Linked DNA regions of Homo sapiens: regions 1, 3, 4, 5, 6 and 7 are each reported to be linked to region 2. The links are microRNA targets in miRTarBase. Many come from high-throughput screens and were not tested one by one. Region 2 holds a microRNA gene; each other region holds the end of a gene's coding sequence.
What was found. The annotated mature microRNA hsa-miR-527 reads CUGCAAAGGGAAGCCCUUUC and lies in region 2 at 1,281-1,300, shown strand. An mRNA with a match to its seed (bases 2 to 7 or 8) in the 3' UTR can be bound and repressed. Matches are read on the target gene's strand: a 7mer-m8 pairs with bases 2 to 8, a 7mer-A1 pairs with bases 2 to 7 and ends in A, and an 8mer does both.

Region 1: the mRNA of CIDEC is a reported target of hsa-miR-527. Seed matches in the 3' UTR shown: 7mer-A1 at 1,211-1,217.
Region 3: miRTarBase lists RAVER2 as a target of hsa-miR-527. Seed matches in the 3' UTR shown: 7mer-A1 at 2,230-2,236.
Region 4: the mRNA of KCTD11 is a reported target of hsa-miR-527. Seed matches in the 3' UTR shown: 7mer-m8 at 3,432-3,438.
Region 5: miRTarBase lists RAB23 as a target of hsa-miR-527. Seed matches in the 3' UTR shown: 7mer-A1 at 2,664-2,670 and 8mer at 1,429-1,436.
Region 6: miRTarBase lists UBE2A as a target of hsa-miR-527. Seed matches in the 3' UTR shown: 8mer at 1,293-1,300 and 7mer-m8 at 1,760-1,766.
Region 7: miRTarBase lists RLIM as a target of hsa-miR-527. Seed matches in the 3' UTR shown: 7mer-m8 at 527-533.

What each region holds. Positions count from the first base shown.
Region 1 is chr3:9,863,869-9,867,947 of GRCh38, reverse strand. It overlaps CIDEC (cell death inducing DFFA like effector c), which reads left to right. Exons shown (of 7, transcript NM_001321142.2): 7 at 652-1,234. The coding sequence ends at 814. Among named protein-coding and RNA genes, the nearest start is that of CIDEC, 14 kb to the left of the region's middle. RefSeq lists a silencer at 3,569-3,863.
Region 2 is chr19:53,738,068-53,742,146 of GRCh38, forward strand. MIR518A2 (microRNA 518a-2) reads left to right here and starts at 1,266; the gene lies at 1,266-1,352. It overlaps MIR517C (microRNA 517c), which reads left to right and starts at 3,246; the gene lies at 3,246-3,340. It overlaps LOC124904765 (a long non-coding RNA gene), which reads left to right and starts at 772. Exons shown (of 6, transcript XR_007067334.1): 1 at 772-1,021; 2 at 4,078-4,079.
Region 3 is chr1:64,830,692-64,834,764 of GRCh38, forward strand. RAVER2 (ribonucleoprotein, PTB binding 2) reads left to right here. Exons shown (of 12, transcript NM_001366165.2): 12 at 148-2,541. The coding sequence ends at 294. JAK1 (Janus kinase 1) reads right to left here. Exons shown (of 25, transcript NM_002227.4): 25 at 2,538-3,966. The coding sequence ends at 3,871. Among named protein-coding and RNA genes, the nearest start is that of RAVER2, 88 kb to the left of the region's middle.
Region 4 is chr17:7,353,381-7,357,459 of GRCh38, reverse strand. It overlaps KCTD11 (potassium channel tetramerization domain containing 11), which reads right to left. Exons shown (of 1, transcript NM_001363642.1): 1 at 2,516-4,079. The coding sequence ends at 3,819. TMEM95 (transmembrane protein 95) reads right to left here and starts at 2,304. Exons shown (of 7, transcript NM_001320436.2): 1 at 2,087-2,304; 2 at 1,818-1,874; 3 at 1,542-1,622; 4 at 1,411-1,431; 5 at 1,184-1,264; 6 at 981-1,068; 7 at 241-861. The coding sequence starts at 2,255. The coding sequence ends at 828. RefSeq lists enhancers at 1,710-2,236, 2,237-2,763.
Region 5 is chr6:57,187,116-57,191,194 of GRCh38, forward strand. It overlaps RAB23 (RAB23, member RAS oncogene family), which reads right to left. Exons shown (of 7, transcript NM_016277.5): 7 at 1-3,485. The coding sequence ends at 3,346. BAG2 (BAG cochaperone 2) reads left to right here. Exons shown (of 3, transcript NM_004282.4): 3 at 1-2,718. Among named protein-coding and RNA genes, the nearest start is that of BAG2, 17 kb to the left of the region's middle.
Region 6 is chrX:119,582,589-119,586,667 of GRCh38, forward strand. UBE2A (ubiquitin conjugating enzyme E2 A) reads left to right here. Exons shown (of 6, transcript NM_003336.4): 5 at 1-88; 6 at 539-1,835. The coding sequence ends at 667. Among named protein-coding and RNA genes, the nearest start is that of UBE2A, 10 kb to the left of the region's middle.
Region 7 is chrX:74,588,199-74,592,198 of GRCh38, forward strand. It overlaps RLIM (ring finger protein, LIM domain interacting), which reads right to left. Exons shown (of 4, transcript NM_016120.4): 4 at 1-4,000. The coding sequence ends at 3,242. Among named protein-coding and RNA genes, the nearest start is that of RLIM, 24 kb to the right of the region's middle.

The sequences.
Region 1 (4,079 bases), not on the chromosome of region 2:
ATGTATTTATTTATTTTTGAGACAGAGACTCACTCTGTCACCCAGGCTGGAGTGCAGTGGCACAATCTCAGCTCACTACAACCTCTGTCTCCCAGGTTCAAGTGATTTTCGTGCCTCAGCTTCCCGAGTAGCTGAGATTACAGGTGTCTGCCACCACGCCCGGCTAATTTTTTGTATTTTTTAGTAGAGACGGGGTTTCGCCATGTTGGCCAGGCTGGTCTCAAACTCCTGACCTCAAATGATCCACCCACCTCGGCCACCTAAAGTTATAGGATTACAGGCATGAGCCACCAAGCCCAGCCTTGTGTTTTTTGTTTGATTGTTTTTTGAGACTGAATCTTGCTCTGTCACCCAGGCTGGAGTGCAGTGGTGCCACCTCGGCTCACTGTGACCTCCGCCTCCTGGGTTCAAGCGATTCTCCTGCCTCAGGCTCTGGAGTAACTGGGATTACAGTCACCCACCACTATGCCTGCCTAGTTTTTGTATTTTTAGTAGAGACAGAGATTCGCCATGTTGGCCATGCTAGTCTCAAACTCCTGACCTCAGGTTACCCGCCCTCCATGGCCTCCCAAAGTGCTAGGATTACAGGCGTGAACGCCATGCCCGACCTACTTCGTGGTTTTGACTTGCGTGCCCTCTCATTCCACCCAGGGAAGCTTTCCGCTGGGCCCTCTTCAGCATGCAGGCCACAGGCCACGTACTGCTTGGCACCTCCTGTTACCTGCAGCAGCTCCTCGATGCTACGGAGGAAGGGCAGCCCCCCAAGGGCAAGGCCTCATCCCTTATCCCGACCTGTCTGAAGATACTGCAGTGAAAGCCCAAGTCCTTGGAAGCTTTCCCCAGTGAAGGACTGACTGGGGGCCTCACGCTTAACTGGTAGTGCCCACAAGCCTGGCAGCTGTAGAGCCGCGAACCTCCCCACACCTCCCTCACCGCGCAGGACCCTGAGTGAGGAGGAGGAGCTGGAAACCTGGGGTGGGTTGGCCAAAGGAGAACCTCAAGCTCCTGGCCTGATCCAGCTCCTTCCTGCCCAAGGCAGCTTAGCCCATCCAGACTGGTCCTGAAGTCTGTCCCTCCATTGGCATGAAGTCTGCCCCTTAGCAATCTGGCCTCGCAGGCTGTACTTTCATGGTGCTCTCTACCTTCTGGCCCCCATCCCGGAACATTCCTGAGTGAATTCGCAAGCGCACTAGCATGTGATATTAGGGAGTTTGCAATAAATTATTGAGGCTGATGTATCTTCTTTGCCTGTGTTCTTTGGGGTGGGGTTTTATCTGGAAGGTTGGAGGGGGCTAAAGGAAGAGACGAATCTATTGTCAAAGTATTCTCTTTAATGTAGGATTACAGCTAATGGCACTTTTTCTACCAAAGAAGAAAAAAAAAAACAGCTGGGCACAGTGACACGTGCCTGCAGTCCCAGATACTCAGCAAGCTGGGGTGGAAGCATCCCTTGAGACCAGGAGTTCAAGGCCAGGCTGGAGCACAATAGCAAGACCCCAGGCTCCTTAAAAAACAAAATTGCAGTTGATTTTGAAACTAAAGTCAGCTGAATTTGAGGCTTGAGCTGACCATGTAATTGATACCATAAGTAACAATTTCCTAATTAAATTCACCTATCAGAGGAGCTTCAATTGAGCAGGTGGGATTAAGTCACTCTTCTAATTTCTCAGTGTCCCATTTTATAATAACCGTTTAAGTGGTTAGGTGAAAAAGTACTACTCAAGCTGTAAGGCATTTCTCCATCAATGCCCATCCTAACTTGCCAGACAGCTTATCTTTCATGTTCAGGACTTTCAACCTCGGGATTTCAAAGTGGGCTCATAGGTAGCCCCAAAGAGTAGGAGCTTCTCATCAGTGTGAGCTGGCATTTTCCAGTATTGGACAACTCAAGACAAGCATGAAAGGCTGAACTTAGGCTGGGCATGGTGGCTCACGCCGTAATCCCAGCACTTTGGGAGGCCGAGCCAGGCAGATTACCTGAGGTCAGGAGTTCAAGACCAGCCTGACCAACATGGTGAAACCCGGTTTCTATTAAAAACAAAAAAATTAGCTGGCCAGCATGGCAGGCGCCTGTACTCCCAGCTGTTTGGGAGGCTGAGGCAGTAGAATCGCTTGAACCTGGGAGGCAGAGGTTGTGGTAAGCCAAGATCGTGCCACTGCACTACAGCCTGGGTGACAGAGCGAGACTCCATCTCAAAAAAAAAAAAAAAAGGCTGAACTTGTAGAACTTGTAGGTGACTGTTTTATTTAGTCTGTGACTGAAAGATTTAAAAACTTGGCCAGGTGCAGTGGCTCATGCCGGATATCCCGGCACTTTGGGAGGCTGAGGCAGGAGTATCGCTTGAGGCCAGGAGTTCAAGAGCAGCCTGGGCAACATAGCCAGACCCTGTCTCTACACTAGATAATAAAAAAAAATTAGCAGAGCATGGTGGCTGTAGTCCCAGCTACTCAGGAGCCTGAGGCAGGAGGTTCACTGGAGCCCAGTAGGTCGCGGCTGCAGTGAGCTATGATTGTGCCACTGCACTCCAGCCTGGGCAACAGAGTGAGAGCCTGTCTCTGGGAAAAAAAAAAAAGAGGATTCAAAAACTCTATCACAGCCAGCCGCAGTGGCTCACGCCTGTAATCCCAGCGCTTTGGGAGGCCAAGGCGGGTGGATCACAAGGTCAGGCATTTGAGAGCAGCCTGGCCAACATGGCCAAATCCCGTCTCTACTAAAAGTACAAAATATTGGCCGGGCATGGTGGTGGGCACCTGTAATCTCAGCTACTCGGGGGGCTGAGGCAGGAGAATTGCTTGAACCTGGGAGGTGCAGGTTGCAGTGAGCCGAGATTGTGCCATTGCACTCTAGCCTGGACGACAGAGTGAGACTCCGTCTCAAAAAAGAAACAAACAAACAAAAAACGAAAAACAAAACAAAACCTATTGTTTCACTACTCTTACTATAAAGCCTATTTGGATGTAGTAAATACTAAGGCAAAGGCCTATATTACCAAAGATGGTCTGGGAGCTATTTATGGCAGCGGACCCAAACCCTGCAGCCTATGGGCAAAGCGGCTGAAGCTCGCTGAAGAGGGCCTGCTATTCCGGGCTCTCCTGCTCTTTTGCAGTTATGGCTGGAGGCTGGCCCGGTGCCAGGCTGGCTCCATGGGGTGGGCTGTCTGGCAGGGAGGCCTGATGTTTGTATTAGCACAGAAGCTATCCCAGTCCACCCTTGATGAAGCTGTGGCGGGGCCTACCTGCTCCTTCCGTAAAGTGCTCAGTAACAGAGTTGGAGTGGGGGTGGGAGGCTCGGTATTTGTCCCAAGCTTCCCTCCTCCTGAGATCCGGAGTTTCACAAGTGAATCTTGAGCAACTGCCCATGGTCTCTTGGCATTGAGCCCAGGGAAAACAAGGTTCTTTCTTTTCTTCCAGGAGCTCGAGGCTAATGGAGTCAAAGCAGCTGTGGTCAGTGAACAGAAAAGGCAGCCTCTGATGAGGCTTGGGGGCTGGGGAGGGAAGATTCCAAACAGCAAAGGAGTTTGAGCCTCTGTAGGGCCTGGCGGTCCTAGTGGGGGAACGGCCTTTCCTGGGGCCCCCCGCACAGCCAGGAGCAGCTGTCGTCAAGGTGGACTGTGTCCCAGCCCCTCCAGCTCAGCCTTTTCATCTGTTCAAGCTGGTGCTCGGGAGTGCACAGGATGCCTTTCAGAAGAATTCTAAATCCCGGGGGCCTGTGATGCCACAGTCACATGTCTGAGCCCAAAACAAGAGAACCACTTGTGTTTTTGCCACTCTTCTTACCAGCGATGCCCATATTTGTGCATATAATTTTTTTTTTTTTGAGACGCAGTCTCACTCTGTCGCCTGGGCTGGAGTGCAGTAGTGTGATCTCGGCTCACTGCAAGCTCCGCCTCCCGGGTTCATGCCATTCTCCTGCCTCAGCCTCCCAAGTAGCTGGGACTACAGGCACCCGCCACCACGCCCAGCTAATTTTTTGTATTTTTAGTAGAGACGGGGTTTCACCGTGTTAGCCAGGATGGTGTCGATCTCCTGACCTCGTGATCCGCCGGCCTCGGCCTCCCAAAGTGCTGGGATTACAGGCG
Region 2 (4,079 bases):
CTGGGAACACCAGGGCATTGCACCGGTGCAGGCAGGATGAGCCAAGGGGAACGGAGAGCCAGGCATCGCTAACTGGCGACAATTTGGGTTTGATCTGGACGGAGTCTGTGTCTTCTGGTAGAGAGAACCCCTGGGATTTTCGCTCTGCTCCTGGCTGTCTTTCAGTCATGGAATCTGATGACAAAGACTCCCGCCCAGAGCCAAGACATTTGGTTTCTGGACCCCAGTGGTCCTTTCTGCCTGGACTTGGGATCTTTTGGGGAAGTTTGGGATCTGGCAGGGCATCTGCATAATCCATAGAAATCCCTGAGAGTCCCTTCCCTTTGCTGACATCTCCATGTTCCTACCTATTAGCTTCCAAAGGAGACTCCTATCTGAATTGCCGAAGGCAGCTTCCCAGGCCAGGGATACCCAGTTAAATTTGTATTTCAGATCAATAGTATATTTCAGATGTACTTGAACAAGAAATGATTTGCTGTTTAGGTGTGGGCATTTGTATTTCCCCCTTTTTTTTTTTTTTTTTTTTTTTTTGACAGAGTTTTGCTCTTCTTACCCAGGCTGGAATGCAATGGCACAATCTTGACTCACTGCAACCTCCACCTCCCAGGTTCAAGCGATTCTCCTGCCTCAGCAGCCCGAGTAGCTGGGATTACAGGCATGCGCCACCACACCCGGCTCAGTTTTTGCATTTAGTGGAGATGGGGGTTCACCATGTTAGCCAGGCTGGTCTCAAACTCCTGACCTCAAGTGATTTCCCTGCATCGGCCTCCCAAAGTGCTGGGATTATAGGCATGAGCCTCCACGCCTAGCCTCAAGTGGTCCTCTTGAGTCAACCTAGACTACAGTCTATGCTAGAGAATGTTTGTGTGTGTGACAATGTATGTTCTTGAACATCATAGATTCCACTTTGGATGCTCCTGTCGGGACTGTGTGTCCCTGTGCTGGAACTCAAGTGAGAGTTGGCTGAAAATCCATTGCTGTTCTCTAGAAATCCAGCCCAAGTCTCTTGGTTAGAGATAAGGTATGTCTAGTGGGCATTGCTTTTTCTTTTTGGGGACAAAACTCAGAAGGATTGCCCCTTGATGAACAAGGCTAACCTGCTGATTCTTTGAAGGAAGGAACTGGAGATGGTCTTTTAGGGGTTTATATTCTGGATTCCAGAAAACTTGCAAACAGGGCCAATACATGCATCTTTATATTTGTGTCCGTTTTGAACTGGTTAAGGAAAATTTCAACAAGAAACCCAGAGTGCCGGAGCAAGAAGATCTCAAGCTGTGGGTCTGCAAAGGGAAGCCCTTTCTGTTGTCTAAAAGAAGAGAAAGCGCTTCCCTTTGCTGGATTACGGTTTGAGAAAGCGACGTTGAAGTTGATGCATTTGCAGAGCATGCTTATCATCAGGCTTGGACAATGGCGGGGTTCTGTTTTGGTTTTGCTTTTTCATTCTAAGACAGGATCTCTGTTGCCCAGGCTGGAGTGCGGTGGCAGTGGCATGTCCAACCTAGCCCTCTTGGATTCAAATGGTCCTTTTTTGCAAGCAAAGTCTCTCTCTCTCACCCAGGCTGGAGTGCAGTGATGTGATCTCGGCTCGCCGCAACCCCCGCCTCCTGGGTTCAAGCGATTCTCCTGCTTCAGCTTCCCAAGTAGCTGAGATTACAGGCACCCATCACCACACCTGGATAATATTTGTATTTTTAAAAATTCATTTATTTATTTATGAGACGGAGTCTCGCTGTCACCCATGCTGGAGGGCAGTGACACGATCTCGGCTCACTGCAATCTCTGCCTCCTGGGTTCAAGCAATTCTTCCTCAGCCTCCTGACTAGCTGGAATTACAGGAGCACACCACCGCACCTGGCTACTTTTTGTATTTTTTTTTTAGTAGAAATGGGATTTCACCATGTTGGTTAGACTGGTCTCAAACTCCTGACCTCAAGTCATCCGCCCACCTCTGACTCTTTCTGGGATTGCAGGTATGCGCCCCCACGCCTGGCCTAATTTTTGAATGTTTAGCAGAGATGGGGTTTCACCATGTTGGCCAGGCTGAACTCAGCTCCTGACCTTAGGTGATCTGCCTGCCTCGGCCTCCCAAAGTGCTGAGAATACAGGCGTGAGCCACCGCGCCTGGCCATCAACACCTTTTACCCCACAGAAATTATTCTGGCACTGGTTTATGGAACTTCACTTGGGGTCAGGTAGAGGTGAAGGGGACCCCAATGTCCCTTGCAGATGGGATGTGTACTGCTCAGCAAGAGCATGGAGGTGGAGTGCATGGGGTTTGAGTTTTCATTGGGGAAATGAAGCTGAAATCTTGGGTGCATGACCAGGTCGTATATGCAACGAGACGGGCGTCTCACTATGCCGCCCAAGCTAAAGTGGGCTTAGATCCTCCTGCCTCTGGCCCTCCCCAGTCCTTAGTAGCTGGGACTACATGTGAATATTAACTCATGTACAGGAAGAGGAAAGTAAGGACTGTTCTTTGATTCATGCCCCACCCCCACTTAAATTTCTATTTCAGATAAACAATGTATTTGAGATGTACTTGAACAACAAATGATTTGCTGTTTAGGTGTGGGCATCTTTTTTTGTTCCTAATTTTAAGTATAGGACAAGGCTGGGTACCACGGCTCACACCTGTGATTCCATCATTTTGGGAGGCCAAGACAGGAGGATCACCTGAGGTCAGTTGTTTGAGACCAGCCTGGCCAACATGGTGAATCCCCATCTCTACTAAAAATACAAAACTTAGCCCAGTGTGGTGGTGGTACACGCCTGTAATCCCAGCTACTCAGGAGGCTGAGGCAGGAGAATCACAGGAAGCCGGGAAGCTGAGCTCTCAGTGAGCTGAGATCGCACCACTGAACTCCAGCCTAGGCAACAGTGAGACTCAATCTCAAAAAAATAAAAAATAGGCCGGGTGCGGTGGCACACGCTTGTAATCCCAGCACTTTGGGAGGTCGAGACGGGTGGATCACCTCAGGTCAGAGTTCAAGAGCAGCCCCGCCATCAAGACAAAACCTCCTCTCTACTAAAAATGCAAAATATAGCTAGGCGTGGTGGTACACACCTGTAGTCTCAGCTACGTGGGAGGCGGCAGCAGGAGAATCTCTTGAACCCGTGAGAAGGAGATTGCAGTGAGCTAAAATCACACCATTGCACTGCAGCCTGGGCGACTCCATCTCAAAAAATAAATACATAAATAAATAAATACATAAATACATAAAAAATAACCCAGAGTACTGGAGCAAGAAGATCTCAGGCAGTGACCCTCTAGATGGAAGCACTGTCTGTTGTCTAAGAAAAGATCGTGCATCCTTTTAGAGTGTTACTGTTTGAGAAAATCAACGTTGAAGATGCTGCTGATCTTGGTAACACATTTGCAGAGCGTGCTTATCATCAGACGTGCATGATGTTGGGGTTCTGTTTGTTTTGTTTTTTTTTTCCAAGACAGTGTCTCTGTTGCCCAGACTAGAGTGGGTGGCACCTCCAACCGAGATCTCTTGGGCTCAAGTGGTCCTCTTTTTATTTTTTGATTTTTTGAGACCCACTCTGGTTTCACTGGGAGTGCAGTAGCAGAATCTCTGTTGACCGGAAACTCCACCTCTCAGGTTCCAGTGTTTCTACCACCTCAGCCTGCCGAATCATTGGGAATTCAGTTGCCTGCCATCAGGTCTTGCTAATTATTATTGTTTTTTTGTTTTTTTTTTTTGAGGCGGAGTTTCGCTCTTGTTGCCCAGGCTGGAGGGCAATAGCGCGATCTCGGCTCACCGCAACCTCGGCCTCCCGGGTTCAAGTGATTCTCCTGCCTCAGCCTCCCAGATAGCTGGAATTACAGGTGCCTACCACCCCACCCAGCTAATTTTTGTGTTTTCAGTAGAGATGGGGTTTCACCATGTTGGGCAGGCTGGTCTCAAACTCCTGACCTCAGGTGATCCACCAGCCTTGGCCTCCCAAAGTACTGGGATTACAGCTGTGAGCCATCACCCCTAATCTCAAATGGTCCTGTAGAGTCAGCCTAGACTGTGGTCTATCTTGGAGGATGTTTGTGTGTGAGACAATGTATATTCTTCAACATTGTAGAT
Region 3 (4,073 bases), not on the chromosome of region 2:
GGGGTTTGTGTATTTTTTGATAGTTTGGGTATTTATCCTGTTATTCTATATTCACCAAGTCAAAGTGGAATGCTTTTCTTATAAATATCTTTAATGAATAAGCCAACTTTAGATTTTAAAACTAGCTGCAATTTTATTTTCTCATAGGTGTCATCTTTAAGAAATGAAAAGCGAGGCTCATCATATCTCATCTCTGCCCCAGAAGGTGGTTCAGTGGAATGTGTTGACCAGCATTCTCAGGGCACAGGAGCATATTACATGGAAACTTACTTAAAAAAGAAGCGAGTATACTGAGTTAAGCTCTCTCCTAATAACCCCCTAAGGTTCTCTGCAGTATCTCTGCTGTTCATCGCTGCCTTAACTTCATTCAAACTAGCCATATCCTTTAAATACGGGTTTATAGTTTCCCAGAAGGAACTGTGTTGTGCAGCAGGCAGAAATGCCAAATAAAAAATAGCAATAAGAAGAGACATCAATTGAGGACATTTTCCACTAGAGTCAGATGCATCTTAATCAGTGTGCTAACTTACAATCCATTGGAGAAACTAACAATGTTCCAATATTCCTTGATTTAGGACTGGGAATAATTCTGACACCATATATAAAAGAAGTTTGAAGCAATAAATGGGAAACAGTGTTGTTTCCTGAGCCTTAGAAGAATGAGTTTCTTATAAGCCAATGTGCATTTCAATTTACTTTCCCTAGAAGTAATTGCATTTATAGATTTTTAGGACTTTTCCTAGAACTACAAGGGTGCAAGTACCAAATGTGCTGATGGTAATATTATAAAGATGCTCTACATGCACACTCAATTACGCCCACACCAGCCATGCAAAATTAAACCCGGTAAGAGAGTGACAGTGATATCCAAGGTATCCACTACTACCGATGCTTTAAGATGTTGTTTACCATTTATACCTTCTGTGAAAAATAGAAGGTATTTTAAGAAAAGTAACTTTGGTGATCTAATAAAAGGGTTTGGCAAACTACACCCTGGGTCCACATTTGGTCTACCACCCGCTTTTGTGCTGCCTGCAAGCTAAGACTAATGTTTACATTTTTAAATGGTTGGAGGAAAAAAGAAAACTTATGACATGAAATTTATATGAAATTCAGATTTCAGTGTCCATAAATAAACTTTTATTGGGACGTTGCCATGCTCATTCATTTACGTGTTGTCTGTGGCACTCTTACGCTACAAGGGCAGAACTGATTAGCTTCAACAGAGACTGTATGGCCTACAAAGACCATATGGCCTAAAATTTCAAGTATCTGGCCATTTATATATAGTTTGCTGATCCCTGATCTAATAGCACTAATTCTAATAGCAACTATTCCTTTCAATTCACCTAAAGACAGACCTTTAGCCTTTAGACAGACTTGTAAGTGGAAAGGAACATGGGTTTCTGTGCTCATTTCATAGCGTAGACTAGTAATGATCTAATGACTAGAATGGGGCCTATTTTGATCACTAAATGCCCTATTATTTCCACAATATAGTATAGTAAAGCAGTCAATACTGCACTTTCTGATGGAGTCTTAAGGAGTCACAGTATTTATAACCATTTTGAGCTAATAAGCTATACCTCACTCTCTGCTTTCTCTCTCACTCTTTTTGATAGTGTGTTAGGGTGAAAAATCAGTTATTTAACCCAATTTACTTGTGAAAGAAGTTTTATCTTTATGGACTATGATGACTTTTGACATCACCATTTCTTGAAGACCTTGGTATTAAATGCATGAGAAACCTTTTGCCATCTAGAAATTTCTAAGTTTGTTTATGTTATAAGACTGTAATTAATTGATAGGGAATTTGGGATCTCAATCCGGGGCTTTTTGAAATCAGATCATTAAATATCTCGTCACTTTGGGGACTTGTTATTTTTAACTATGATGTGGATATCCTGTTTTAATTATGAAGTCTAGAATTGGTACATATGTTGTATGCTTTGTAAAGAATTTCACTTGGTCTAATTTATTGCATATACTAGCTTCTGTTGGAAAATGACTGACAGCTAGAAAGTTTAAGGTAATTTCTAAGTATACTACCTATAAGTAACTGATAAGAATTAGGCATCATTCAGTGATATAGCAGATGACTAATGGGTTTTTCAGGCCCTGCACTTCTCTTTCCCATTTTCCTGTTGCATTCAGCCTCTTCAATGCTTAGTCACACCTCCACTATAGTACAAACAAACAAACAAACAGAAGAAAGGAAAGATGGTGAATTTTGCAACAGAGCTGCAAAAAGTCAGTCAGTCAAAGCAGGAAGAGGTTGAAGGAACTAAAACAAACAAACAAAGGTGTCTGGACTACAGCACAGTGGACATGCCATCCATACTGGCCTGTGCCCCGTTATCAATCACTGGGCACAACAGTGAAGAAGTGCAAATCAAGTGGTGTTTGTTTGTTTGTTAGTAGTAAGGACCGTAACCCACCCCTTCCTCCCCCCAAAACTATACTGTTATTTTTCTATGTAAGCAAATTGTTTGAAATGCTTTGAAAATGAAATCTTAATATTAAAAGGCATATGCATGTAAAGTCTTTAGTATATTTATTTGTATAAAGAGTAAACAAAGTGCATATAGAGTGGCCACAGGTTTGACACAGAGACCTTGGTGATGTAGGCTATGAACAAATTTAAATGGCAACTTCATTGCTGCCACTGAACCAATCCTGAATTTGGGCTCAACAGGTGAAAAGTAACAATATCAAACGAATACTAAACAGCATAACAAAAAGATTTTCAGACTCTTGGTCATAAAGACCGTAATCGTTCACATTGAATCAATGACTAAACATTTTTGATTACCCAGCTACCTCCAAGCAAACTGAAAACTGTCTAGTGGATCCTGAAGTCCATAGTGCCTCTAGCCGGGTCTTTCAAGTGTTGCACCACAGGGTGATGATTGATGGTAAAAACAGGGATCAACCCTTGTAGATCGGTGGTAAGTATGGAAACCCTCTAAGAACAGTGCAGCGTATGTGGTATTCAGACTGGTTGCATACAGCATTCAAAACCAGTGCTGGAATAGCTTGCCCCAAAGTGGTAGAGTTATAAAAGGATATACATTGACGTTTCTTAAAAGCATGTGTAATAGCATCCAGGTTCTGGGAATGAGTTCTGATTAAAGGTATACTGCTTAGGAAAGCACTGGCACAGGCTTAGTTCTTGAGAATTAACATGCAGCAAATTATCTATTCCACAGCTATCCCCCCATGTAGAACCAGCTTTCTCAAAAATGGGTGCTAGTGATCACCCAAAGGAACAGGAGCTAAGCCACTGGAGAAACAAAGTTTAAGTCCTACTGGTGAGAGAATACAGTCATTTTTGTACAGAAACAATATATACTACCTGGTATCTAATATTTTAAGAATGCATGGTCTAGTACTGTATAGATACTGAAATTTGAGGGCTAAGTCCATCAATCTTTCTTTATCTATGATTAATGTGCCAGCAAAACATTTCAGATCAGCTGGCAGCAGGGAAAAGCAATCATCTTCAGATATTATTTTGGTCAACTCCTCGTTTTCAAAAATCCCCTTTTGGTAATGCAGTTGTGATGGTGAACTAGCCAGATGAAATGGTGGTATATTCTTTCCACAAGGAGGAGTGCTTAAGTGCTTTCAAATATTTTGGTTGTCATTATGTGTCACTAAGTTACTGGTACCAAATTTAAAGAGGAAGTCCTTACACATATTAAGCACTACAGTGTGCCTTATACATGTATATGTACTGAAGTATGAGTTCAGTGACTTTTTGGACAGAACACAAACTTCTTTCATTAGAAATTTTTAAAAAATGACTTGGGCATTTGTTGCAGGAGAAGGACTTGATAATCTGTGGAATTTAAATGTTATTCATGCTTCTTATTTTAAAAGTGCTTCAAATCCTTCAATAAGGTTCTGAAAGCTTGTCCGATTGGATGGTTGGAATTCCCAGCATTTCCTCATAAGTTGATAAACCTGTAAAAAGAAAGAAGTAACAACAGTAAAAATGTTAGATCTGGGAACTTTAAAAAATAACAGAAATATCAAGAGTAAGAAAATAATTTTGGAAATGCAATGACTTT
Region 4 (4,079 bases), not on the chromosome of region 2:
TCTTTGCTGTGGGGACTTTCCTGTGTGTTGTGGGATGTTTAGCAACATCTCTAGCCTCTACCCACCAGAGGCCAGTAGCACGTCCCCCCAGTTAAAACAATCCAAAACGACTCCAGATGTTGCAAAATGTCTACTGGGGTGCAAAATCACCCCCATCTGAGAAGCACTGTGCTACTCTGAGAGTCTCCCATCCTTCCTCTGCCCTCCCCAGTTGCAGACAGAGGCTAGGCAGGGGCAGAGGCCATGAACAGCAAGTTTTACTTAGGCCTGGCAGGATGGAGGCCTCTGAGGGAGGCCAGGATTTCAAACTGTTAACACGATGGAGGGAGGGCATGCCCGCGAACCCACTGATGTGATCTCACTCTAGTGGGGTGAGTTTTCCAGAACATGCATTCCCGGATTCCCCATCAGTCATAGGAGGGCCTGGAATAGCTTCTGGGGCAGATGCCCCCGCTTTCCCGGAACAGGCAGAAGGGGGTGTGGGTGTGGTGGGAGTGGCGTAGGGGATTCTTTCCTTCTGTAGATATTTTCCTGGCATTGTTGACAGCCATGTGATTGGTTGAGGGCTGGAGGGGAGGAACTTTCCAGCTGTGGGTGCCTGGGTTCCCGGGAGGCCATCTGACACTGGGATTGTGGGGGATCTGGGTTTTTGGGGATTTTCTTGTTTTTCATTATCTCACCAACCAGAAGCAGGGATGTCTGGGTTTTAGGGTCTGGAGACTGTCTTTGGAGCTGGGACTAAGGGGCTGACTGGTTCCCCTCCAAGGGATGTGGAAGTTGTGAGTGCATACCCCTTAGAGCTGGAGGCTGGGAGGTTTTCAGCGTCTTCACAAGCCACTTTTTGCTTGGAGGTGGTGGGACCTGAGGGAAGACGAGGGTGGGAAGCCTACGGGAGGGGCCTGGGAGGGACAGAGGGAGGGAGGATGGGTGGTGGAAGGCACTGGGCGGGGTAGGATTCCTGTCTTTATCCCAAAACTCACTCCACCAGGAGGCTCAGAACACCCAGAAGCAGGAAAGCTCCGAAGATGGAGAGGAGCAGAATCTTGGCTTCCCAAAGATCCTGACTTCCTGCAGGGAACCCAGGAGGCAGTGAATGATTCTGGGACCCACACGCACCGACTTGGGAGCCCAAGGGCTCAGGGATCTGGGCAAGGTGGGGCGGGGCCAAGATGGGCGTGAGGACCTGGGAAGCAGCGCTTTCGGGGCCAGCAGGACACCTCCGTCCCCTTGCAGGTGGAGCAGTTGTACAGCGTGGTGCTGCCCCCTGCAGGAGACAGCAGAGGCAACGCTGGGGAGGGGAGGCCGGGCCTCCACCCTGCCTGGTACCCAGCTTCCTCCTGCAGCTGCCAGGCCCTCCTCTGACACCCTGCAGGCCCCAGGTCCTTGCTACCCCTTTCCTTTCCTACTCACGGCAGGCGGGGGGACAGAGAGCTGAAATGAAAGACAAGGAAGGGGTGGGGGTGTGAATGGATGAGCTGCTCACCACACATTCCTTTGGTTAAGACCCTAGGCTCCCCTTGAGGCCCATCCCGCATCGGTACCTTCCCTGGTGTACTCAGGGAGCTTGGTCTTTCGAAGCCAACTCCAATATGAAGGGAGTGAGGAGACAGCCTCTTTGATTTCTGGGGAGGCAGACAGCAGCTCCGTTTCCCTGGGCCTCGACGGGGCCAGTTCCCCCTCTCTTCACGCAGCCCCTCCCTGATCAGCCCTCCTGTCTCTACCCCTCCACCCTTCCCTGCCCACCCCAACCCCTGTCACCCGTCCCTCTCCTTGGTATCCTCCCAAGCCCCTAGGTCACTCTTTCCCCTTGACCTCACCCATGACCCTCAGGACTCTGTGAGTCTTCTCTGTGACTTTGTTCATGGACACCTCATCTGTGGAGATGGGCAAGGACCAGCGATTCCCTCATCAGCCCAGGTTCTGGGGTCTCTCCTGACTTTCCCAGATATGGAGCTCTCTCAGAGGGAAAGGCCAGCATGTCCAGAAAGGGCCACAGATGGAGGGCACAGCTGGAAGGTCACATGCCACCCTCTGGGGGTAGGGGGGTGAGTGCTTGCTGGGCCCATCCCTGGATGTCTGGTCCTACCTAAGGCAAAGGCCGAGAAGTCTGGGGAGGCCCCACATTCCTTCTGCCTGGCCTCCATCTGGCTGCAGAGCCGAGCCAGGCGGCCTGACAAGTCGTGGGCTGGGAGGCGACAGAAGACACAAGCCTGGGCGGCTGCCAGGAAAACCCCGCCTAGTGCCAGCCTCCACATGAGGACCACTGGGGGATGGGGCGGCGCTGCCCCAGCTGAGCCGAGGAATGCTCTGCAGCCCTGGCTCCAGCCCTTGCCTGGAGGTTCTAGAATGTTCCAGAACAATGAACAATGGCACTGCCCATCCTCAGCTGGGGTAAAGCTGGGGCTCAAGGAACTGGGGTCCAGAAGGCATCTCCAGCAGGCGATGGGCAGAGAAAGCAGGGCTTCTGTTGTGAGGGGACAGCACCCCCAACCTGGCCCTCAACAGCCTTCACAAGTTTGTGGTTCCAAAAGCAGTTTTATTTTTCTTCTTGTAAATCATGACCAGTGAGAAATAATGTGTGCCCCACCCCCCACCAGTGAAGAAGCTGTGCGTGAGTATCCCACCCGCTCTGGGACCCAGAAATCCCATCCCTTCCCATCTCCTCCCCCACTGTCCCAAACTCTTCGTCTCCTCTCTCTGCCCTGGGCGGCCTTGGGCCTTCCCCAGCTATCTCCTAGCAACAGGTCCATGGTTGCCTCAGCAACCAAGAGTTCCATACAGGCCTCAGAGGCCCAGCTAAGCCCAGTGACTTCTCTTACCTCTCACCAGGAAGATCCCAGTGACTCAAACCCCAACAGGCCCCTCCTGGCTACGTGGTGATGCATATACATGCGTGCACATAAACACACACACACACACACACACACACACCCTGTGATTAAACTACTAATTGTCAACCACCTCACAGGTATACCACAGACACACCCTGTGCCAGAAGAGTCGCTAGGCAACCCCAAACAGGCCTGGACATGCGGACATCACAGACACTGTAGTCAGCAACACAGATATGAACCAGGATGCCAGGGACCTATACATCAGTCAGCCACACGGGCTGATATGCACGCACACATGAAGAAAGGCCAGGACCCACAGATACTACCCTCTTCCCCCTGGCCAGCCCTGCCATCAGTATGGGATTCTTCCAGATGAGGGATGCTCCAGCCCCATTGCCATGGGGACTGTCCTAGCTCCCATACATCAACCTAGGGTGGGTTGTGGCCTTTCTGCCTCCCTCAGTAGATGGCTTGGAACATAGCAAAGAACTCCTCTTCCGATGTTCCAGAGTGTTCTGGCCTCTCATTGGTCAGGCCAGGCCAGGCCACCCAGCTTCAGGAGTAGAAGCCATGGTCCAAGAGACCGCATTGGGAAAATGCAAAGTCCTCCCTTTTCCCCAGACCTCAATATCCTTCCAGGGTTTTGCTAGGTCTAGTCTGGGTAAAGAGATGTTCCCCCCTTTTCCAAGCCCTTAAACACTGAGCTCCAAATCAAGGAGAGACTGGAGGTGCTCAGCCTTAGGCAAGAACAAGCTGAGAGAACCTTCCCTACCCCTCCCAGGGTCAGCACAGGTTGAGACCTTCTGGACCACTTGTGAGTCCTTGGTGGGCTCAGGTTTGGGAATTCCTGCCCACATCTGAGCTCCAGTCAGGTGCAGGAGAGTCCCGACTCTCATAGCTCCTGAAGCAGAGCTGGAAAGAGGCTTCAGGGGTGCTAGTACCCCATTCTCTCTCCTCCCCACAGTCAAACTGAGAACAGCATCCTCAGTGCCGGACAAAGCGCAGAGACCTGGAGTTGAGCAGGTCTTCGGGGTCGGGGAAGACAGAGTCTAGTCGGAAGCCGTGCTCGAGAGCCACCCGCAGCACCTCCTCCAGGAAGCTTGGGGTGCCCACCACCTCCCGCCGCTCTCCTGGCCCCCCAGTCCACAGCGGCTGCAGCCCCAGTCTCCCATACTCCACCTCGGGGAGTTCCACGGGGCGGGGGGCCCACTCCAGATGAAAATGTGGGCTCCCCTCTGCCCTATC
Region 5 (4,079 bases), not on the chromosome of region 2:
TTTTCCATTCAAATTTACAAAAGCATTATTTATTAGTAATAAAAATATAGAAGGAATTCAGTTTTCCTTTTATCCCCAATTTTTTGCTTTTAAAAGACCATTTACTAACATCCTACTGTAGATATTTCGAGAGACAGATGAAAATAATAATAATAAAGATTATTATAGCCAAATCATCCAGTTAGCCAGGAGTTTGATGACTGGATATTTCAGAGTCTACTGCGGGTTTTAAATATTTTGTTAGCAAATGAATTCATCTGTATGATGAGAGACTTACATGTTTTATAGCTGAAAACCTAAGGAGTGACAATAGTACATGTGACATTCTTAACAGTTAAAAACTGAGTAAGTCCTGTTCATTAGGTAGGTGCCATGTGGAACAAGCTTTCACCTCATCAATGCATTTTGTTTTCAGAGAAACAGACTAATGATAGATTAATGGGAACATTTTATCAGGTTAGCAGTAACTATTTCAAAGGTTTTGAAAAGTATGCTAATAATTAACAATATCTTATATTAAAAGGGTCCAACACTAAGTTGGGACATTAGGTCCTAAGGCCAACTCCCTATTCTAAGGTCTTCAGAAAAGGTCCAGTTTCCTAAAACTCACAGGTCCAAGGAGTACATGTTATTTATTGAGAGTTCCTTCTGAGCACTGCACTGCCAACTTCTAAAGCAACCACCTAGAACTTCACTCCATAATGAGGAAAAAGTTTTCATCCTCTTTTTGGTAGTTTTAGCTTTATTTTGAAAAAGTAACGTGTGCTATCAACTTTGGGCAGATACAAAGGAAATCATTTAACCTGGTTTTATTTAACTATATTGCCTTATATGGGTCATTCTATATACTATTTAATTCATAGACAGAGACTGGAAAAGGAAAAGGAAACCTGAGGAACTCTGAAATATGGCAGTTATTCCACAGCGATATGTCTACGCAAAAGATTAGCCGTAATGTTAAAAAAGTAGATTAGAGCACAAATGCACAATCACCTGGAATCTTGGAAAAGTTTTTCTTTAGTATACATGGTTTCATAAAATTAAAGTTATTTAAGAGAATGAAGGGTCTTGGAAAAAAAATGTCAATTTTTGAAGGCTTTAAGAATTGATTAAATTGAGAAATTAACATGGCTGACTTTCAGGCCTACTTAATTATTTTAAATGACTAATTATGGTTAGGTTTAAAATACAGCAGTGCAAATTAAAAATTCAAATATGTAACAAAGCTCTCTCTTCAGTTCTTATTTAAAAAAAGATAAAACTAGGTACATAAAATTATATTACAGGAACTGTAACTATCCTCAGAGATTACTTTTTTTAAATATAGAAAGGTAACACGCTTTTAGCCACACAGCTAACATGAAAAAGAACTAACTAGAACACATATAACAAGTGATTTTTCTGCCAATAAAGACAAAAGACTATTTGTTGCAAAGTATTATTTTGTGCAAAAATTAAAGAGGAGAGTAGAGAGTAGAAAATTGAAGAGAGTAGAAAAGATGACTCATTAGCAGTATCCACTGTTTGTTAGGAACTGAATTTTGCCCCCAAAACCTATGTCACTATCAGCAATGGGAGTGGTGACAACTGGTGACATAAAAATAAGCATTTTACATTACTGTGAAATAGATAATGCCAGATCATTTCAATATAATGAAAAGCAAAAATTTACTTTTTAATTTTTTTTATTTTTCCATCTAAAATGGCAAAGAGAACATTTACTTTTGATCACTTAACAAGGACACACCCAGGAAATTTGATTTTCTCAACATTAGGAGGATGAGGGGAGTACAGATGGAAAAACAAAAGATAAAACACAAAAGGAGTACATAAAACATTGTTTAGTACAAATAATGAAAAATGACTTCATGACATTTTCCAATAAAAGTTATTTTTACAGATTTTGCAATGCTGTAAAAACCAGGTATATTGAAAGGGGTTATTTATAGGTTAAAAATAAAGCCATTGATGAGTGATAATCAGTTTTAACAGAGTTCACGCAATTATCTTAGCTGGAAAGCTACTGTCCCAAGTGACAAAATTTATGTCCTGACACATGATTACATATTAAATCATTTTGTAAAAGAAATGATTCTGTATGTGGGACTGACAGCTCTTGAGAAAGTGCTATACAAACAAGGTTATAGAAATGTTGAAGTGATTGATAATCTTAAAATACCATACAAAAATGTGTAAACAAAAGGATGGTTTAGAGTTGCAGGGCATTATAAAATATGTAATTTTAGTTAAGACTAATAATAATATTTTTGTGCACTTTAAAAATGGTTAGTGTAATCTTGTAAGTTCAAAGCTGGGTTCTCAGTGAGCAGCAAAAGGTGTTAGATGCATCACCACACTTCACAGGACCTCCTGAATGACTGCAGATGTGCTGTGTACCTTCTTAAGGGGCTTTGGCTGACCTTATGAGAGCAGGAGCTCACCATGCTTATGGGTGACTATATCAAAAAGATCTGCAATAAGGCTCACCTGGGAGATGCTCTAGCATTCAAATTCCTATACTCCTCTTTTATCTACGCTGTCAGATGAAAACTGCTTACTGCTTTTAAAAGATATAATAAACAATATAAATTCTGATAGTAAAGCACTATAAAAATTAGGTATGATATTTTTGGCACAAAGCACTTTTTAAACCCAAGCTCATTTTGCAAAATATATGTCTAGAGTTTATCATTTGAAAATAAAAACATATACACAATATGTAAATGGTTTTATAAGTGAATTAATTAGAATGTACATTTTCTTAAATACTGCACATACCTTCAGCTTACTCCAGTACCAGACATCTGCATGCACACCCCACATTCTACATTACACAGATATTGCACAAGTTTCAATGCCAAAATACTAATGCAGTCTGGCAAGATTTAGGGTTTACCTTTCAGTATTATTTTGTGAAAGTATTCAGATTCAATACTATTTCGCAGAAAAGCTACATGACCAATTTCAGGAAAAGAATGCTTGCTATCTTTCCTTGATCCACAGTATTAAAATCTGTAACAATATATTTAGGCATTTCATTTATGTTTTCCAGCATTTAAAATTCCGCAAAACCTGTGTTTGAAATTTCTTATAGCATTCCTTTACAAACAGGAGAAGCTTCGTCTAATGTAAAAAAAATTAAAGGAGTCCACAGGGCAATAATTTTTCCACCAGAGGTCTCACTCTACATTCTGAAAAGCACTGCAGAGCAATATTTAAGTCTGTCACTTTCAGAGAGCCATTAGGAGCAAAGTCTGCTGAAAACCTTGTAACATACCATGACAGCTGGATGGGTTTCTTAATGCATTGCACAATGTAATTCAATTGTTTTCCTCCCAAAACATCTTAGGGTATGCTACAGCTGCTAAAAGGATTTCTGTTTTTCTTGGTCCTTTGTTTGTTGGGTCTAAGATTGATGACATCTCCACCATTGAGGGTACCTGAATTCTGACCGGAGTGACTTCCACCAGATGTATTAAAGACACCTGTATAAATTGAGGGAAAAGAGTGATTGCCACTGACACGCCTGAGTTACCTGTTGCATCCAGCTTGTTAGTAAAATCAGTAATATTTTCAAGTATTTACAGTTTCTCTAAAATTGTAGTAAAATCCAACAAAATTTAGCATCTTAACCATTTTTAGGCATACGGTTCAGTGGTATTAAATACATTTGTAATGTTGTGGAACAATCACCCCCGTCCATCTCCATAACTCTTTTCATCTTTAAAACTGAAACTCATACCCATTAAACAGTAACTAACTCCCCATTCCCCCTCCCTGCAGACCTTAGCAACCACCATTCTATCTTCTGTCTCTTATGATTTTAACTACTCTACCTTATATAAATGGAATAATAGTGTCTTTTTGGGACTGACTTATTTCATTTAGCATAATGTCTTCAAGGTTCATCCAACGTAGAACACTGAAGCATTTCCTTCCTTTTTAAGGGTGAATAATATTCCATTGTATGTATATACCACATTTTGCTTATCCTTTCATACATCAATGGACACAGATTTATGATTTTAAAGCTCTTGTTTTAGTTTTACTTTTAGTAGCTAATACGCATGGTACAAAGT
Region 6 (4,079 bases), not on the chromosome of region 2:
CTATGCAGATGGTAGTATATGTCTGGACATACTTCAGAACCGTTGGAGTCCAACCTATGATGTGTCTTCCATTCTAACATCCATACAGGTGAATTTTTCCTTAATGTGACGAACTATAACTTTTAATATGTTTATATTAGCAATTGAATTGTTTTTGAAAGTCATAATGTAATAGATCTTTTTATTTTTGGTCAAAGCTTGTTTGTTTTATAGATGAAAAGTAGACCATTAAGACCCAAGTCAGCTGGGTACAGTCGCTCACACCTGTAACCTCAGCACTTTGGCAGGCCAAGGTGGGAGGATTGCTTGAGTTCAGGAGTTTGAGACCAGCCTGGGCAACATAGTGAGACTCTTCTCCCTTAAAAAAAAAAAAAGCCGCATATATTTTCCTAGCTACTAGCAGATTCACATAACTCTGGGTTTGTATGCTAAAGACAAGAAATGTAGCTGTACTTAGGACAATTCAATTGAGTGTCACTACCTTATAAAATAGTTGTTTTGCATTAAGGAACTGACATTTTAAAAATTGTCTCTTTAGTCTCTGTTGGATGAACCCAATCCCAATAGTCCAGCAAACAGCCAGGCTGCTCAGCTGTACCAGGAGAACAAACGGGAATATGAAAAGCGTGTTTCTGCAATAGTAGAACAAAGCTGGCGTGATTGTTGACCCCGGGTACAGTTTAAAGAAGCTGGCCATAAGAAAAATATATATTGATGTGTTTGTCACCTCCCTACTCCTGTCATTACATTTACTTTATTAAAAGCAAAATAACTGTTGTGCTGTTTCCATCTTCCTTGCCAAGTTTTCCTACCCCTTCTACCCTCTCCTTAAACATCAGAAAACACCCTCTATGAAATCAAATGTACTGTACCTGGGTTACTTGCAAAAATTACTAATGCTTCAGTTTTTCTGTTGTATTTCATTTCCAGTTTTCAGGCAGTTATTTTTATTATTGTACTTTAAGCTTTTAAGATGAATTGTTATACAAGAGGTGCTTATGCTTAGCTTGATGACCAGGATGTTATTTTTAACAAAATGATTGCTGAAGTGTTTCATCCTGGCTGGTCCTTCACTTGTGTTGGATTTAGAAGTGAATGTGTTTGGAATATGGCCTACAGAGAATAGAAACAAATCCATGTAAACAATTTTGAAGGAGGCATGGGAGCTAAAAATCCTGTGATACTAAGATCTCAGTCATATGAATTACAACGTAGTATTTACTGGCAAGAAGGAGAAAGTTGAAGGACTCAGCTAAAGGAGTACAGCAATTGTAGTAACTGACACATCCTCTCTTTGCAAGCTGCTGACTGGGCACACTCATGCCAAGTTTCAGAATTATTGGTCTTCTGGGTTTTTGCTTTTTAAAAGAGGTGTGGGAGCAGAGGAATGGAAACAATCGTGAGTTTTTGAGCTAGGGAAAGTTGGAGCTCCTTTAATCTTTTTAAAGGATCAGTGCTGCCCTAAGTGAATAAACTCAATTGTCCATCTTTATTTTAGAGTTTTAATGAATTCAAGGAAGGGAGCATAGCATATCTGTGGCAAACTATTTTCCACTCAAATCCTGAGTTATTGCTGCATGCTTTAATTTCTTCCCTTTCAGCATCTGAGAACCTTAAAGCCAATGTCTGCGATCTTTTTTTGGATATTTATACTTTTAGATATATAGTACCTTTAAGTAGCAGTATGGGACAAGGCTTGTAAATGTTTTGTCTAATGTTCTATTGTCACCTTTTATGCATTTATCACTTCCAAATCTAACTTTGCACAAGTAACCCATGTAAAAAAAAATGTACATTTTTCAAAAGTTGTAAATAAAAATAACCTTAAAATTTCATAGTCAAGGTATCTTTTTTTTTTTTTTTTTAGCTCAGTATAAACTTTTTGTATTGGTTTCTTATTGGGATCTCATATGTACTCATTTCCCCCCTCAAACATTAAGGTAAAAGCAAAAATACTCATTCTGGGAGGGGAAAAGACAAGACAGATACTTCTGGAGAGAACTTTTTTTTTCTTTCCAGTCATAAGTGGTAATGCTTTTTAAATATATTAACAGAATATGTTGCCGGGCACAGTGGTTCACGCCTGTAATCCCAGCACTTTGGGAGGCCAGGGCGGGCAGATCACGAGGTCAGAAGATCAACCATCCTGGCTAACACAGTGAAACCCTGTCTCTGCTAAAAATACAAAAAGAAATTAGCCAGGCGTGGTGGCATGCCCCTGTAGTCCCAGCTGCTTGGGAGGCTGAGGTAGGAGAATCGCTTGAACCAAGGAGGCGGAGGTTGCAGTGAGCCAAGATCGCGCTACTGCACTCCAGCCTGGTGACAGAGTGAGACTTCTTCCTCTCAAAAAAAAAAAAAAAATTTAACAGAATGTAAAATTATTAAATAAAGTTACCTCAGTATACATTATAATCAATCAAGGGAATGAGGTTATGGGGGGCGTGCGGGGGGCAGGGATAAACCAACCTAGGTATTTATCAGCACCCTCAGAGACCAAGATCTAACTTGTTGATCCTGACATACCACCTCTTTAAAAGCCCTAGCTCAAAAACAAACAGTACCAAACTTTTTTTTTTTTTTTTTTTTTTTTTTTGAGACGGAGTCTAGCTCTGTCGCCCAGACTGGAGTGCAGTGGTGCAATTTTGGCTCACTGCCACCTCTGCCTCCTGGGTTCAAACGATTCTCCTGCCTCAGCCTCCTGGGTAGCTGGGATTACAGGCGCTCGCCACCATGCCCAGCTAATTTTTGTATTTTTAGTAGAGATGGGGTTTCACTGTGTTGGCTAGGCTGGTCTTAAACTCCTCCTGACCTCATGATCCACCTGCCTCGGCCTCCCAAAGTGCTGGGATTACAAGCCTGAGCCACCGTGCCCGGCCTAGATGGTATTTTAAATCCTATGCAAAGTTTGGGAGTACAGATATCCTCAATCACTTTGATTAAACAAAACTACTTTCTTCTGAGGAGCAACCCATCTCATTTGAAAGAGGCAAGGACAATGACTTTGTAAAAACTACCACCTCTTGGTACTTGTTTGGTTGGGTGGATGGGGCTAAATGAAGTTAAGTCCTTATGACACATGTATCTCACTCATCTTTTAAGACATGGTACTTGAAGCCTCAGTATGGAGTACAATCTGTACTAATTACCACATTACTTGGATTGTTTCACCTAGGAGCAATGTCCTTCAATTTGCTTAATAGTTTCCCTCAAGTCCATTTCTGCTTCAAAGTAGAACCACATTAAATTTTTCTATTTGGTGGATTAGTTTTACATTAACTTTTTCATCCTGCTATGTGGCTGAGTGCTTTAAATTGACACTGTTAATCATACCTGAAACAATGTAAGGCGAGACTCAGAATGGTCAGGTTTAATAACTTTTTTCTTCTGTACACCTGAGAAACACTATACCCAATCTCTTTCACAGGATAATCCATTTAAAACCTTACAACAGAGCCAACAAGCTGACCTCCCAAAACAACATATGCATGGTCAAAGGCACCACAAACCATTCATTTGAACATTTCATGCTAATTGCCTCTTTCTCCCTTTAAAATTTTTAACACCACAGGCTACATGTATTGATAACAAAGTTAATGAAAACAAATTTGCAATGTCCCTTTTTCAAATGGCAGTCAGGTTTGAACTTTTCAATTCTGCACGTGCTGATGTGGGGAAGGAGGTATGATGAAGAACCAAAGCTGCAATTAGAATCCTTTATTTAGGACCCATCTCCAGCTTCAGGGGTTACTCATAGCAAAGAGAATGCATTGTATACTACTAAAAAAGAATCCCAACAAAGTGCATGATATTGCCATTCATTTTGCAATCAAAGGGGAGGAAAAAAATCCAAAAAGTAGATCTGTGATACTAAAAGCTAGATATAAAATGGAAAGAACAGTTAGTTCCTCAGTATAAAAAACACTTAATCCAAATAAAATTTGAAATTGCTCATGTACCTGTACAGATTGTATAGGAAGGTTACTGGGTTAAGAATGACTACATTTCAAAGAAAGGGAAAATACAGTAACCAACTGAAAGGGGACAAAATGGAACAAAATGGAACAACAGCAAGCTTGTCA
Region 7 (4,000 bases), not on the chromosome of region 2:
GTGGCTCACGCCTGTAATCCCAGCATTTTCGGAGGCCGAGGCAGGCACATCACTTGAGGTCAGGAGTTCAAGACCAGCCTGGCCAACACGGTGAAGTCCCCATCTCTACTAAAAATATAAAAACTAGCCAGGTGTGGTGGCATGCGCCTGTAATCCCAGCTACTCGAGAGGCTGAGACAGGAGAATTGCTTGAACCCAGGAGGCAGAGGTTGCAGTGAGCCGAGATCGCTCCATTGCACTTCATCCTGGGCAACCAAGTAAGACTCTGTCTCAAAAAAACAAAACAAAACAAAACAAAACAAAAAAACCTCAACTTTGTCAGCTGCTCAGAGTTAAAACAATTCAAATGTTTCAGACTAGAAGTGAGTTTTTAAAAACATCTGAAATATTCAAGAAAATTTGGGTTTTGGTACTTTTCCTTATGCTCTGAACAATGTGAACTCCCAACATTGTTTATCCTTGTTCCTCTTACTGCATGAAGTTCAAACTAGGTCTTAAAGACAACTTTTCTGTACTTAAGAAAAAGTGCAAAGATAGAAAATGAAATGTAAGGTGTTTTGCAAGAAATGCTCCCTCGAGAATGGTGTTTGGATGTGGGTGGGGGGAAAACGATTTTTGTTCTCCATTGTAATCTGACACCTACGAATGACCTTGTCTTCAATGTCCACAACACTAGTAAGCATGTAATAATCACGGACATCGCAAGATTAAAAATTAAGTAGCAAATTCCACTAAAACACTTGTATTCATTCTATACAATCGAATGGAAATCCGTGAGTGCTACTGAAAAAGGTGTTCACATGCACATGTCCAATATGTGCATTCCACTGAAGGCTAAAAGCTTAAAATTCTATTTCCAGTGTTTATGAATAGCTTCAATATCTACATTCATAGCCAGCATTCTGCTTGAGTTACCTCTTACTTTAATACTTCACAAATGAGTAAGTACGTCTTGGGAGATTAGGAAGGTACCTGTTGTCAATAACTTTCTCTTATGCTTAGAATGTGCTGCAATTGTTTTTAAACTATTTAAAATGAACACCCCTATAATAATGAAACACTTTATGCCAAGAAGAAAATTGATTTGTTTTTAGCCAATCAAGACTACCCTGCAGATCTGAAAACTGTAGATTACATCCTTAGGAAAGGAGAAAAGGAGGCTCACAAATATAAAGGAATCCTGACTTTTACACGGACAAATTTTTAAAAAGATAAAATGTATTACATAAGCGCCATAAACAGTGAAATCTGCTTATATTAAAAAAAATAAGTGAAGCTTTGTTTGGACATTATTTCCTTGCAAGAGCAGTACATATCCTTAGTAAACAACTACCATATTTACAAGTTAATTTCCTTGATACTTAGATAGGATTGAAAGCCAGAAGAAATCATGGAAGAGTGAGCTTTGAAATAATCTTTACAGCTAAGTTGGTAACAGTGAAGGTACCCAGACAATTCCTAAAGCAGACTTGTTTATTTTGTAGAGTATTTGACTACGTCTGGGTAGCTAGCTTGCTTTGATAAAGGCCAAGGACAAGTTCAATCCCTATTTTGGCCTGTTAAAGCTTTTCCCAGAAGAACAAATATCTGCTCCATAGTCATTCTAATCCTAACCCCAGCTAGTCTCAAAAAAGAAATTAGGCAAGAAGACTGGGGTTATCATGAAGTTACTCTTACTACTAAGAAACCAACATAAAGTGCATGTCCATAGATAGCGAGTCAGCAGTCTCATTTTCATATATGGGCAGCACAATTAAAATTTGAATTTCAAATAACCCAACATGACTTTCAACAAAGGATAAAAATCCCTTAATCTTCAACTGGTCTTTAAATTTGAGATGTTAGGACTGTGTTAGAGATAGTAATGAAATATGATCAAGTGTGCACTGGTACCTTAAATGACAAATCTCAAAAACAACACAAATTCGAGACTTTCCTATTAACACACACATGTGTACCAACTGCAATTCATATGCTAAAAGTGGTTTTATAGTCTCTTTCCTCCATTTTTTCATTTTTGAGGAGCAGACTTGTAAATTTAACTTGTGCTAGGTAGTAGTGGTTTGTTTTTCTTAAACCAAAACTCTGCCAAACTTGCTGATCTTCTGCTTCATCTACTCAGGTAGAATACCAGGTCAAGCTGCTGCTGTGGCTGCTCTCACCATATGAAACCAGTTTGTGTCTGCATTATTACTGTCTTCAGGAAAACTTTAAATTCTTCAGTTTTCTTTACTCCTCCCATATTTCACTTCCTGCCTAAATCCAAGTTAAATTATACAATTTCCACTGGTCTTCAACACGGTTTAATTCTGCACTGTCCTTTCCTTTGCATGTCACAGTAGCTGTTCACACATTAAATATTATAGATATGTTCTGCTCTTGACATCTACACACTTACAAAAGCAGCTTTGTACTTTGTTTGGTGTGTTTGTTACTATGTTGGCTCACAAAAAGCAGTTTTCTCAGTTCTAAGCATGGTACTTTACAATTTTTAATGCATTCATACAACAGTGCATTGGAAAAGTACTGAGCCTCTACAAAATAGCTTTACATTTTTAAACAAATGAATGTGATTTTTTTTCACTTACACAAGCATAGGCTTTTTAATATTTCCACAAGATAAATATCTCAATTAAACTATAAGCTCACTCTACAGTGTGCCACAGTGATGGGCTTAGGAGACAGTTATACACTTAGAAGATCCTAACCTTAGTGTTATTTACACTGACATGTCCAGTATCACCAAGTCTGAAAGGTGAACAAACAATACTCAGAATGTGGCTGAATTTGTGTTAACTAATAACTGGGAATGATATAGCTTTAATCACTTATGAAACACATACTGTAACTTAGTCTAAACTGGTAATTTCCTTTGCTCCTCTCTTATGGTGTGGGAAAATTTAAAGATCAACATGAAAAAGGAGCCATTGCTAAGGCAGATCTTTTAAGATAACAAAGGAAAAATTGACAAGTGTATATGATAAATTATCAGTAACAGTGATGCTACCAATTTAACTGGTACGGAAATCAGATTTTTAGGTCCTATAACGTGGCTTTTAAAATATTTCCTTTTATTCTGGAACAAAAACTGGAGAAAGGACAATGATTCCTTCAGAAAGCAATGACTCAATTCAGGTTGTTACTTTACATTTAAGTACCACTCAAAAAGTGGACATAAAAGCAAGTGATTCCTGTTTGCCCATCACTATATCAGCTACATAGCTGAGAGTTCAGATCTTAATTACACAACACTTTCTCTGTTACCAGAAGCTAAGACTGCTCTGCGACAAATAGGACAGGTAGAATTCTCAGATAACCAGCGATCGATGCAGTGGACATGGTACTCATGGGAACAAGGTAGTTTACGAAGTTTGTTGCCTTCTGTATATTCTGTAATGCAAACACTACAGGTTTTTAATGCATCATTTTCACCAAAACTTCTCATTGCCAAGTTGTCAATCTGTTCTTTGGTGAGTCCTCTAGGTTGGTCATCATCATCCTCATTTAAGAGGAAAAACTGAGCCAGGCTAAGGAAGGGCAAAGAGCCACTTTCATCAAATGTGACTGGGGCCCTATGTCGACCCTCTCGCCTGGCACCTGATGAGCCTGATGATGAGCTTCCTTCATTACTGCCTTCAAATAAATCTGAGCTAGTTTCTGAACTTTCACCACCGGAACTGGAACTAGGACTGGAACTGGAACTTGAACTGGAACTGGAACTCGAACTGGAACTGGAACTCGAACTGGAACCAGAACTACTACCACCACCAGAACCTCCTCTTCCACTCCGTGACTCTGCCCTTTCCATATTTCGATTTGAGACTGAGCCAGTAGGCTCTGAGTCGCTATCACTGTACATAAAATAGCTTAACTCACCAAAACCTGTCATTATCTGCCTTAACATGGTCTGAATTGCAACAGATGTAGTCTCACTTAAACCAGTATTTAAGATTCTACGAATGGGAATTCTGATGGTACTGACATAGGTTCTCACACCTGC